Linked DNA regions of Homo sapiens: regions 1, 2 and 4 are each linked to region 3. The links come from fine-mapping of genetic effects on gene expression. A gene starts in region 3. Each other region holds a variant in brackets. All regions are shown on one strand. Distances are from middle to middle.

Region 1 (2,680 bases), 200 kb after region 3:
TCCCTTGGGCAGATTCTATGCTTTGCATAATATGGACTATGAGGATCAGGAGATACTAAATACTAACAGCAGTGATTCATCAGAAGCATGTATGTACTAGGCCTAGGGCATGGTGGGACAGGAACTCCATCAATAAACCCCTGCAGGTTCCTTCTTTACCAAGCTGTATCCTTAACCTATCACAGAAAAGGCAATAAAACAAAAAACTACTGACAAAAACTTCTCAGAGAGAAAGTAAATTCTCAAATGGGGTGTGGGTGCCAAAAAAAAAAAAAAAAAAAAAAAAATCCAGCATGAAAGAGAAATAAAAGCTCAAAAAAGGCTAATGCAGTGCCACAATTCCAGCTGTTAGCCCCTCAGTGAACAGGGGCCCCTAAATCATAACATGAGAGAAGGCTGGTAGTTTTTTAGCAGGGGCAAGAGCGGGGTGTGGTGAGAGCAGGAATTGATGAAAAATGTGATGGTCTCTACTAATTCATACAGCAAGTTCCTAAACAGAATAATGTTCAAGTGGCCTCATTTTCCCCTTCATTCACCACTCAATCACAAGGACCTGAGGTCCTGGGTTTTCTGCAATAACCCTGATTAAAAACTCCATCCAACTGTGTTTGGATTTGGGGTTGCAAGGAAAAAAATGAATATTTTACATATAGTTCATCCCAAACTCCCTTGCACAGAGTTTGAAAGAACATGGTAAACCCACATATGCAGGCAAAGTAAAATGCCAAATAGACAAGGGTGAAATAGGCAGGAGATGGATCCCTGAAGGTCCAAAAGTATTGAAAGTTGGCCTGCTAGCCAGGCACAGCGGCTGACGCCTGTAATCCCAGCATTTTGGGAGGCCGAGGTGGGCGGATCACGAGGTCAGGAGATCAAGACCATCCTCAACAAGGTGAAACCCCATCTCTACTAAAAATACAAAAAAAAAAAAATTAAATTAGCCAGACATGGTGGCGGGTGTCTGTAGTCCCAGCTACTCGGGAGGCTGAGGCAGGAGAATGGTATGAACCCGGCAGGCGGAGCTTGCAGTGAGCCAAGATTGCGCCACTGCACTCCAGCCTGGGCGACAGAGCAAGACTCCGTCTCAAAAAAAAAAAAAAAAAAAAAAAAAAGAAAGTTGG[G/A]CCACTAACTCTACTGCAGAATTACTTGCACTGCTTTTTGAAAATACAGATTATGATTTAATGGAAAGTATTCCATGGGACTTGTCAGTTGACTGCTATTTAGGAAAAAAAAAAAAAAGATCAAACTCCTTAGAAGTCTTACTTGACCTGGTTTCTGCTTACTTTCTCATCTCATAATCACTCTTCTTCACTCTAAACTATTCCATCATTCTACAAATATTTATTCATGTCTGCTACACGTTGGCACTGTTCTAGGTACTATGAATGCATCCTAGGACTGCCATGTAATGGTTGCTCAATTATGTCTTGTATAATTGGCTGAGGAGGCAAGAGGAGGCCAAAATCTAGGTCCATGCTTTTCTAGCCGAACTACGTGTCCCGCGTGGAGCCACAACCTTTTGGAAAGGAGACTTTCTTTTCTTTTCTTTTTTTTCTCAAGACGGAGTTTTGCTCTTGTTGTCCAGGCTGGAGTGCAATGGCACCATCTTGGCTCACCACAACTTCCGCCTCCCGGTTTCAAGCAATTCTCCTGCCTCAGCTTCCTGAGTAGCTGGGATTACAGGTATGCAGGCATGTGCCACCATGCCCGGCTAATTTTGTATTTTTAGTGGAGATGGTGGTTTCTCCATGTTGGTCAGGCTGGTCTCAAACTCCCGACCTCAGGTGAACTGCCTGCCTTGGCCTCCCAAAGTGCTGGGGTTACAGGTGTGAGCCACCGTGCCTGGCATTCTTTTCTAATTTACTGGAAAAAGTCCCATGGGCTAAGGGAGGACCTGGCAATAACAATGAACAAATCAGACAAACATCCCTGTCCTCAGGAAGCTTATATCCCATTGTGGGAGAGACAACCAAAATAAATTATATACTATGTGGGACAATAATAAGTGTTATGGAGAAAATAAAACAGGGATCAATCTCCCTGGCTCAAGTGATCCTCCCACCTCAGCCTCCCAAGTACCTGGGACTACAGGCACATGCCACCATGCCCAGCGAATTTATTTTTTGTAAAGAATGAGGTCTCACAATGGGGCCCAGGCTGGTCTTGAACTTTCAGACTCAAACGATCTGCCTACTTCGGCTTCCCAAAGTGTTGGAATTAGTCATCAGCTACCACACCTGGCCAGTTTTAAATACAGTATTCAGGGAAGAACTCACTCAGAAGGTGACATTTTTGTTTACAGAACCATGTCAAACCCATTTCCCCTCAGGCCTTTGCACTTGCTGTACTTTGCCTAAAGTTCCTCTTTCCCTTTCTCAACTTTTGCATACCTAGCTTTTTATCTTTCAGTATCAGCCTAAATGTCACTTCCTTAAGGGCAACTTTCCAGCAACACTAAGTAGAATAGCTATCTATATCCCTAGGCAGTCCTAACCAAACAAAGACTCAAGGCCGGGCTCACACCTGTAATACCAGCACTTTGTGAGATCACTTGAGGTCAGGAGTTTGAGACCAGCCTGACCAACATGGCGAAATCTTGTCTCTACTAAAAAAATACAAAAATTATCCAGGCGTGGTGGTGGGCACCTGTAACCCCACCTACTTGGGAGGCTGAGGCAGG
Region 2 (2,680 bases), 34 kb before region 3:
GAAGCTCTTAGAACCTCTGCTTTGGGGCCTTTTATGGAGAATTCATTATGTAAGCATGATTGATTAACCATTGGTCATCAATTTAACTTTCAGCTCCCTCCCCTCCCCTGAGGTCATAGGGTGGGGCTGAAAGTCCCAACCCTCTAATCCTGCCCTGGTCTTTCTGGTGACCAGCCCCATCCTGAAGCTGCCTAGGGGCTGCCGGCCATCAGGCAATCATCAGCATACAAAAAGACACTTATCACTTTGGAGATTCCAAGGATTTTAGGAGTTGTATGCCAGGAAATGGGGATGAAGACCAAATGTATATTTCACATTCTTACAGGCTGTGCCACTGCTGATGGGGGCAGGGGGCACCCCTTCATTTCTGTTTCCTTCCTAGTTGGGGGATTTCGCACTCTCCTCTCCACTCTCCCACAGGAAGGCTGGAGTTGACTTTGCCAGGTGGACGAGTTGGAGAAAAGGTGTTTGGAGAGAGGAGCTACACAGTGCAAATGCACAGAGATGTGAACTATCCTTGATGGACCTATGGTCCACTTTAAAGGCTTTAATGCAAGAGAAGGTGGTATGTGGGGAGGCTGGCCTGGCCCTGAGGGGGCTGAGCCCAGAGTAGGGGGCTCAGCCCAGGGCGATCCAGTCCCCAGCTGGGAGGCAGGCAGGGGGCCAGGCAAGAGGGGCGGGGCGATGGCCCTCAGAAAGATAATCTTATGACCTGACTTGTCACAGTTCCTGCCACTTCTCAAAGACATTCACCCTTGGAGGGGGAGTCCCACTACCTGCTGTCCCTCCACTTGCCTCCTGTGCCTTATGCTCCCTCCTCAGTGTCCCCTGGGATCTGCATCTGAGGGTAGTGAGCAATTTACAGCTCAGTCTCCCTGCTAGGATGAAGCGGATCCCTTGATCCCGAGAGACACAGCTGAGATGTCTTTGTGTCCTCACAACCCTCAGCAGGATGACTTTTGAAAGCAGATGCTTCATTAAATGTTTCATAAGTGAACAAAGGCTTGGACAGTGACCTGAGAGGTAAGGAATGTTTACTCCCATTCTGCAAAGGAGGTAGCTGAGGCCTGGAGAGGTTCTTAGTGGCAGAACTGGAACTAGAATAGAACCCTGAGCCCTGTGCGCTCCTTCACCCTGTCTTCAGTGGGGTGCCAACTAGGCCTGACCCCATCCTTTCTGACGTCCTGGTATATTTTTCCCATCCGCACTGGGCTAATGATCTTACTTAACCCCCAATCCCGGAGCAGCCGGGCCCTCCCGCTCCCCATGCACTGCAGACCACTAGGTGGCGCCAATTGGTCATTCAGTCCTTTCCCAGGGAACCGCAGAGCCTTTGTCTCCCAGTCTCTGGGCTTAGGTGGGGGGTGCATGGACACTTTAGGAGGTGGGGGCTGAGTTAGTGTAGAGCAGGGAAGTTTTAAATAATCTTCCATCAGATTATCTGCTTTGTGCTCATTAACCCTCTTGTTGGTTTGTTTTTGTTTTTGAGATAGGGTCTAGCTCTGTCACCCAGGTTGGAG[T/G]GCAGTGACGCAGTCAGAGCTTGCTGCAGCCTCGAACTCCTGAGCTCAAGCAATACTCCTGCCTCAGCCTCCCAAAGCATTGGGATTACAGGGGCGAGCCACCATGCCCGGCCTCATTAACCCTCTAGTTTGTTTTTCACAATAACCCTGGGAGGTTGGGACAATTGTCCCCATTTTATAAAGAGAGAAACCTAATTTCTTTTTCTTTTCTCTTTTTTGTTTTTTTGTTTTTTTTGAGACAGTCTTGCTCTGTCACCCAGGTTGCAGTGCAGTGGTGCCATCTCAGCACACTGCAACCTCTGCCTCATGGGTTCAAGCAATTCTCCTGCCTCAGCCTCCCGAGTAGCTGGGATTACAGCTGGCTAATTTTGTATTTTTAGTAGAGACGGGGTTTCTCCACGTTGGTCAGGTTGGTCTGGAACTCCCGACCTCAAGTGATCTGCCTGCCTTGTTCTCCCAAAGTGCTGGGATTACAGGCATGAACCACTGCGCATGGCTGAGAAACCTAACTTCTGAGAGGTTAGGTGACTTGGCTATGGCCACACTGCAAGCTGTATCTGGAACCCAAGTCCCAAATAAAGGGTCCTGGGATTTTTGCAAAGTCAGCAGAGAGCCCTGAAGCCAGATTCCTGTGTTTAAACACTGGCCCCATCAGTTCCCGACTGTGTGACTGTGGTTATTCTGCTTAAATCTGAGCTCTGGTTTCATCGTTGGTGAAATGGGGATAAAGCCGATCAAACATGGATGGAGTTAGGAAGACAGAAGAGCTGGAGTCAGGCCAGGGATGCAGCAAACCCTCAAGGTTAGCTCTTATTTATTTGTCTTGATTATTGTCACCTGAAGGGGCCATCCCCCGCCCCATTAACCCCCTCTTGAGCAGCCTCTGGGGAATAACAAAGAGAATTCACAGCAGCCCAGAGTAAATGAATGCCATCTTTCACAAAGCCTTCCTTCCTGTCTGGCCTTCTGGAGGACCTGGGCTGCGCCCACCCACCATGGGGAAGGGGAGGATGAAATCTCCCCACTCTGCCTCCCGCAACACACGTGAGGTACAGGTCCCGGTCAGTTAGTGCACTTGGGCATAATCCCCCTTCTGTCTTCTGCCCATTTTCTTATGAAAGCGACTTCGACAACTCTAAAGTGGAATTTTTTTTTTTTTT
Region 3 (2,680 bases):
GCCTGAGCCAAGTGTTGGCAACAGGGCTGATGGGAAACCAGGGTGCTCTTGGCCTTGCCACCAGCAGAAAATGGTCCCCAGCCCACAGTAGGTGCTCAATAATTATTTACTAAAGGAATGAGTATATCATTGGAAAGACATTGCCCATCTCTAGGCCTCAATTTATCTGTGAGATGGCAGGTCAGGATGGAGATTATAATTTACTGGGAAGACTAAGCCACAGCACAGTGATCCTGTGGTGCTAGTCCTACCTAATTCAGGAGGTCGACACACAGAGGTTCTGGGGGCTCAGGCACTTGTCCACGGTCTGGGATCCTAACCAGTCCGTGACTGCAAATCCAGCTTTTCTTTTTTCTTTTCTTTTTTTGAGACGGAGTTTCGCTCTTGTTGCCCTGGCTGGAGTGCAATGGCAAGATCTCGGGTCACCGCAACCTCCGCCCCGTCCAGGAGAAGGGGCACTGAGGAGGGACCCAGTTCTCCCGCGGCTCTGCCGGATTCAGGCTGCAGCGCTTCCAGCGCTCCCCGAGGTGGGTGCGGGTTTCTACTGTGGCAGCAGGGCGGGCCCCCATCGGCTGGGTTTTCAAATAGAAGAGAAAACCGACCCAGAGGCCGCGCCCTACTGACCTGCGCGGGGGTGCGGGGGGAGTCACGACGACCTCCCCCACCTCCCCCAGCCTCTAGGCTATTACATCCGTCCCCAGCCTTCGGGCTCAGAATAGGAGGCAGGGAAAGGTGTGAGGGGCACTGAGGTCGGGGGAGGAGCGAGAAGACCCGAAAGCCAGGCGTGTTGAGGGCAAGGTGGGCAACAGAACCTTCTTGGTCATTCGAGGCAGCCCTCGCTAATGACCATTGGGGTCCCAACACTCGAATCCCCACCTAAGTCCTATTCAGATAGTGACTGGGAGTGGGAAGGGAGTTTGAGATCCTAAGTCCCACCCTCTGGGCTGGGAGCCTGAGGCCAGAGAGGGGAAGTGATTTCCTCAAGGTCACTCAGCAAAACAGCGCCCAGCCCGGGCCAAAGCTCAGGTGTCTCCCAACCCCCTCCCCCCGGCCATCACCCCCAGAACTCGGTCCCCCGGAGCTGAGGTCTGCGCGACTGGATTTAGGGGCAGAATGAGTGCGTCGGGAACCCCAAAACCCTAGATCAAGATACAAGGGGAGTCGACGGCCCGGAAACCTCGCTGCGGGTGCCCTAAGCGCGAGGCCGCCCGGGCAGGGCCGCCCAGGGACCGGGGCGCTGGGTGCGGGGCACGGGGCTCCACCTCCCGCGGGCTGGGGCGCGCAGCGCGCGGCCCCTTTAAGAAAGTTCGCCGGGCGAGTTCATCAAAGTTTAAAAACTCGCCGTGGAGAAGGGCGCGGGGGAAGAGGAGAGAGGGAGAGCGCTGACCCAGGCGAGAGAGAGGGGAAAGGCCCGGCCGGAGGCCGGCGCCCCGCGGCCGGGGCCGGGGCGAGCCCACGGTGGGCGGTGGGGATTGGCTGCGCGTTCCCCCGGAGACCGCGCGGCGGGCGGGGGAGGGGGCTGGCCGGGCCCCAGCTGAGGCCGGTTCCGGCCCCGCCCCCCGCCGCCGGCGCCCGCCCCCTCCCCCGGCGCCCGCCCCCCGCCGCCGCTGCCGCCGCCGCCGCCGCCGCGGCGCACTCGCCGGTCGCAGTGAAAAGGCGGAGGCGGCGGCCCCTCCGGCTCCCACTGCCTCCCCCGCCGCACCCCCTCCCCACCTTCCGCACCCGCCAAACTTGATGTGACCCTGGCCCGACGCGGAGGCTGCCCCTCTCACTGCCCCGTGGGTCCCCCGCCACCCGCTCCGCACCCGCGAGCGCACCGCTCCCCGCGCCCCTTCCCACTTCCCGCGGGGCCGGCGCCGCGCTCGCCCTCGCGTTCCTTCCCGCCGCCCCCTCCCCCGCACCATGAGCAACCTGAAGCCGGACGGCGAGCACGGCGGCAGCACCGGCACCGGCTCCGGCGCGGGCTCCGGCGGCGCCCTGGAGGAGGAGGTGGGTCTGTGGCCCCGGGACTTGCCGGGTGAAGCGCACGCCAGGCGGGCGCGGGAGAGGGCGAGCGGGGCCTGCCGCGCCTCGCGGGGCCGGGGTGGCCATCGCTCCCGGCGCCTTCCCGCCGCTGCCCTCTCGCCCGGGTAGGAGCGGCCCGTGTCCGCGGGCGGGAGCGTGCGGCCTGGACTGCCCCGCCGGACAGGCATTGTCTCCCCGCCCTCTCGGGCTCGAGGCGGGCCGCGCGCGCCGGCCGCCGTCCGGGCGTCCCGCGGTGGGCGAGATGCGCCGCGTCCGTTCCATGCCTGCCGCCCGCGCGCCCCTTGCTCCCCACCCCGTAGCCGCTCGCCGCCCTCCTCCGAGGCGCACCTCCTGCGTGGCCAGGACCCCGCCTCGGCGGCACGGAGCGGAGCGGGATTAGCACGGCCCGAGGGCGGCACCCTCACTCCACTGCCTTTTCCGCCCTGACCCCCTCCCCGTGACCTTGGAGGCCTGGGCCGGCCGGCTCCTCGGTTCCTGCGAGCTGTTGTCATGGGGGTGGGCGGGCTTTCTTCACAGCCCCAGAACCTGGGCTTTGGCAGAGGTGAGCCCACAATTTAATTAGTTTGGAAGATGACTAAAGACACTCAGTTCGTCCTTCTCCTCTCTCTGGGTTTGTCCTGGCAACCAAGCCAGGACCCCAAAGCTGGCCTGGGTG
Region 4 (2,680 bases), 30 kb before region 3:
CAGGTCTTCGGTCCCTGACTCAGACCTGCCCCACTGCTACTTCCTTCTCTCCCACTTCCCCTCTTCCTAGTCTTTCCCCCAGGTGGCTGCCTCCCTGGCCTCCCTTCTAAGCATCGCTAATCCCCCTGTGGTCCTCATATGACTGAGACGCCCTCTCCAGGGTTCAAAAAGATGGTCAGGGATCTTTTACAGATCATGTTGCCTCCTCGGGACCAGGAGCTTACTCCTCAGGCATGTGAGCCCCAGCAGGCCGGCCCCACCCCTGTCAGGCTGGACTGGGGGCTGGGGGACCAGAGGGAGGAAGAAGCCCTAGCCTCGCCTTCCTCTGCTCACTGAGAACTGAAAAAACCACAGTGGTCAGTTGGTCCAGTGGCCTCACATCACAGATGAGCAAACTGTGGCTCAGGGAATGGGAAGGAAGGCCCCAGGGTCCCCACAGTGAAATAGAAGCTGAGCTGGGTCTGACTGGAGCCCCTAATAACCTAAGGTGGGGGCTTCATCCTGGGAAAAGAGGGTCTATTATAGGAGGAAATGCAGCCACTGTCACTGCCCCAGTGTTAGTGTGCTTGTTGGATGGGGCGGGGGCGGTGGTGCCTGGAGGTGGGAGTATGTGAGGGTGAACTTTGTGTTTAATTGGGGTGTACTTGATCTTCTCTGGGTCTTTCTAGCCTGGCTCTACCGTTAACCTCTTGTGTGTCATTGGGCAAGCCCCTTTCCCTCTTTGGGCCTCAATTTCCTCCTGTAAAATGAGTTGGAGAGATCTTTGAGATCCCTTCCAGCTCAGACCTCATGCATCTCCCATCAGCCCAGCCTCATCTGCCCACCTGTTTCCAGGCTCCTGCCCTGGCTAAGGTTGTCTCACAGCCTGCTGAGGCTCCCATGGCCTCTCTCAGAATGGTCTCTCTCAGCTGGGCGCAGCAGCTTATGCCTGTAATCCCAACACTTTTGGGAGTTCAAGTCCAGCCCGGACAACATGGTGAGACCTTGTCTCTACAAAAAATCAAAAAAACATTAGCTGAGTGTGGTGATGCATACCTGTAGTCCCAGCTACTCAGGAGGCTGAGGCAGGAGGATTGTTTGAGCCCAGGAGGTCAAGGCTGCTGTGAGCTGATAGTGCCACTGCACTCCAGCCTGAAGGACAGAGCAAGATCCTGTCTCAAAAAAAGAAAAGAAAAGGCCAGGCATGGTGGCTCACGCCTGTAATCCCAACGCTTTGGGAGACCAA[G/C]GCAGGTGGATCACAAGGTCAGGAGTTCAAGACCAGCCTGGCCAAGATGGTGAAACCCCATCTCTACTAAAAAAATACAAAAATTACCGGGCGTGGTGGTGGGTGCTTGTAATCCCAGCTACTCCGGAGGCTGAGGCAGAGAATAGCTTGAACCTGAGAGGCGGAGGTTGCAGTGAGCCGAGATCGCGCCACTGCACTCCAGCCTGGGCGACAGGGCAAGACTGTCTCAAAAAAAAAAAAAAAAAGAAAAGAAAAAAAAAGAAAGGACTGGGCACAGTGGCTCACACCTGTAATCCCAGCACTTTGGGAGGTCAAGGCAGATGGATCACTTGAGGTCAGGGGTTCAAGACCAGCCTGGCCAACATGGTGAAACCCTGTCTCTACTGAAAATGCAAAAATTAGCTGGGCGTGGTGATGCGAGCCTGTAGTCCCAGCTACTTGGGAGGCTGAGGCAGGAGAATCACTTGAACCCAGGAGGTAGAGGTTGCAGTGAGCCAAGATTACACCACTGCACTCCAGTCTGGGTGACAGCGAGACTCCATCTCGAAAAAAAAAAAAAAGAAAGAAAGAAAGAAAAGAAAAAAATTAGCCCAGTGCAGTAGCACACACCTGTGGTCCCAGCTACTTGGGAGGCTGAGGTGGGAGGATTGCTTGAGCCTGGGAGTCAAGGCTTCAGTGAGCCGAGATTGTGCCACTGCACTCCAACCTGGGTTACAGAGCAAGCCTTGTCTCTAAATAAATAAATAAATAAATAAATAAATAAATAAATAAAAGAATGGTCCCCATTTCCTCATCACATGCATTCAGCACATCCCTCCTGCAGTCTTGGACCCTGGCTGAGTTTCCTCATCTGACACACAGCAATGACAATCCTCCCTTGAAGGGTCTGTGGTGTGAACACCCAGTGGGACACACCCGTGGGGCTTGGGAAATGCTGATGGCTTAACCAGCAGTCCCAGCTTTTCTGCACTGAACAGAAAGCCTACTCGTCCCACCTCACTCTCCTTCATCCAAGTTGACCAGGTCCTCCAAGTTTGGTTCAAGTCTTCTTTTCCTCCAAAAAGGCCAGTTCAGTTCCCCTCTGTGAACTGGAGCTCCTACAGGGCTGGACTTCCACTTGCCTGCCTCCATCAGCAGCTCCTACCATCCTGTGGGAATGCAGAGCTAGGGGCTCCAGGAGACCCAGCTACTAGGACATTTGATGAGGAAGTGGCTGGGTCTGAGGGCTCATTCCCACAGAACATGACTCCTCCTGCCCCAGAGCTGTTTTTGACACGGGATTATCTTTGACCTTCAGAAACATCCTTGCTGCCAACTCTAAAAAAGCTCAGAGTTGGCCAGTCGCGGTGGCTCATGCTTGTAATCCTAGCACTTTGGGAGGCCGAGGCAGGTGGATCACGAGGTCAAGAGATCAAGACCATCCCTGGCCAACATGGTGAAATCCCATCTCTACTA

Direction of the effects. Positions count from the first base shown, and alleles are read on the strand shown. Sizes are in standard deviations (SD) of each study's normalised expression. Not every link is listed here.
For the expression in fibroblasts of the gene that starts at base 1,633 in region 3, G is the high allele of the variant in region 1 and A is the other (moderate effect, 0.66 SD a copy in GTEx).
For the expression in prefrontal cortex of the gene that starts at base 1,633 in region 3, allele G in region 4 goes with a higher level than allele C (large effect, 0.85 SD a copy in GTEx).

Evidence for each region. PIP is the estimated chance that this variant, and not a neighbour inherited with it, causes the effect. A credible set is the group of variants that fine-mapping cannot tell apart.
Region 1: its variant is the best candidate, but not a certain one, in a credible set for the expression of RBPMS2 in fibroblasts (GTEx, PIP 0.78).
Region 2: its variant is the best candidate, but not a certain one, in a credible set for the expression of RBPMS2 in whole blood (TOPMed, PIP 0.53).
Region 4: its variant is the best candidate, but not a certain one, in a credible set for the expression of RBPMS2 in prefrontal cortex (GTEx, PIP 0.90).

Annotation. Positions count from the first base shown.
Region 1 is chr15:64,571,779-64,574,458 of GRCh38, reverse strand. All of the region lies in intron 2 of ZNF609 (zinc finger protein 609), which reads right to left. All of the region lies in intron 4 of LOC101930091 (a long non-coding RNA gene), which reads left to right. Among named protein-coding and RNA genes, the nearest start is that of ZNF609, 110 kb to the right of the region's middle. RefSeq lists enhancers at 2,094-2,193, 2,224-2,293. The variant G/A (reference allele first, on the strand shown) is at 1,122.
Region 2 is chr15:64,808,702-64,811,381 of GRCh38, reverse strand. No RefSeq gene overlaps it. Among named protein-coding and RNA genes, the nearest start is that of PIF1, 16 kb to the left of the region's middle. RefSeq lists enhancers at 1-116, 117-624, 2,147-2,654. The variant T/G (reference allele first, on the strand shown) is at 1,521.
Region 3 is chr15:64,774,542-64,777,221 of GRCh38, reverse strand. It overlaps RBPMS2 (RNA binding protein, mRNA processing factor 2), which reads left to right and starts at 1,633. Exons shown (of 8, transcript NM_194272.3): 1 at 1,633-1,989. The coding sequence starts at 1,903. RefSeq lists enhancers at 80-925, 926-1,772 and a silencer at 1,208-1,457.
Region 4 is chr15:64,804,117-64,806,796 of GRCh38, reverse strand. No RefSeq gene overlaps it. Among named protein-coding and RNA genes, the nearest start is that of PIF1, 20 kb to the left of the region's middle. RefSeq lists enhancers at 1-100, 608-1,116. The variant G/C (reference allele first, on the strand shown) is at 1,226.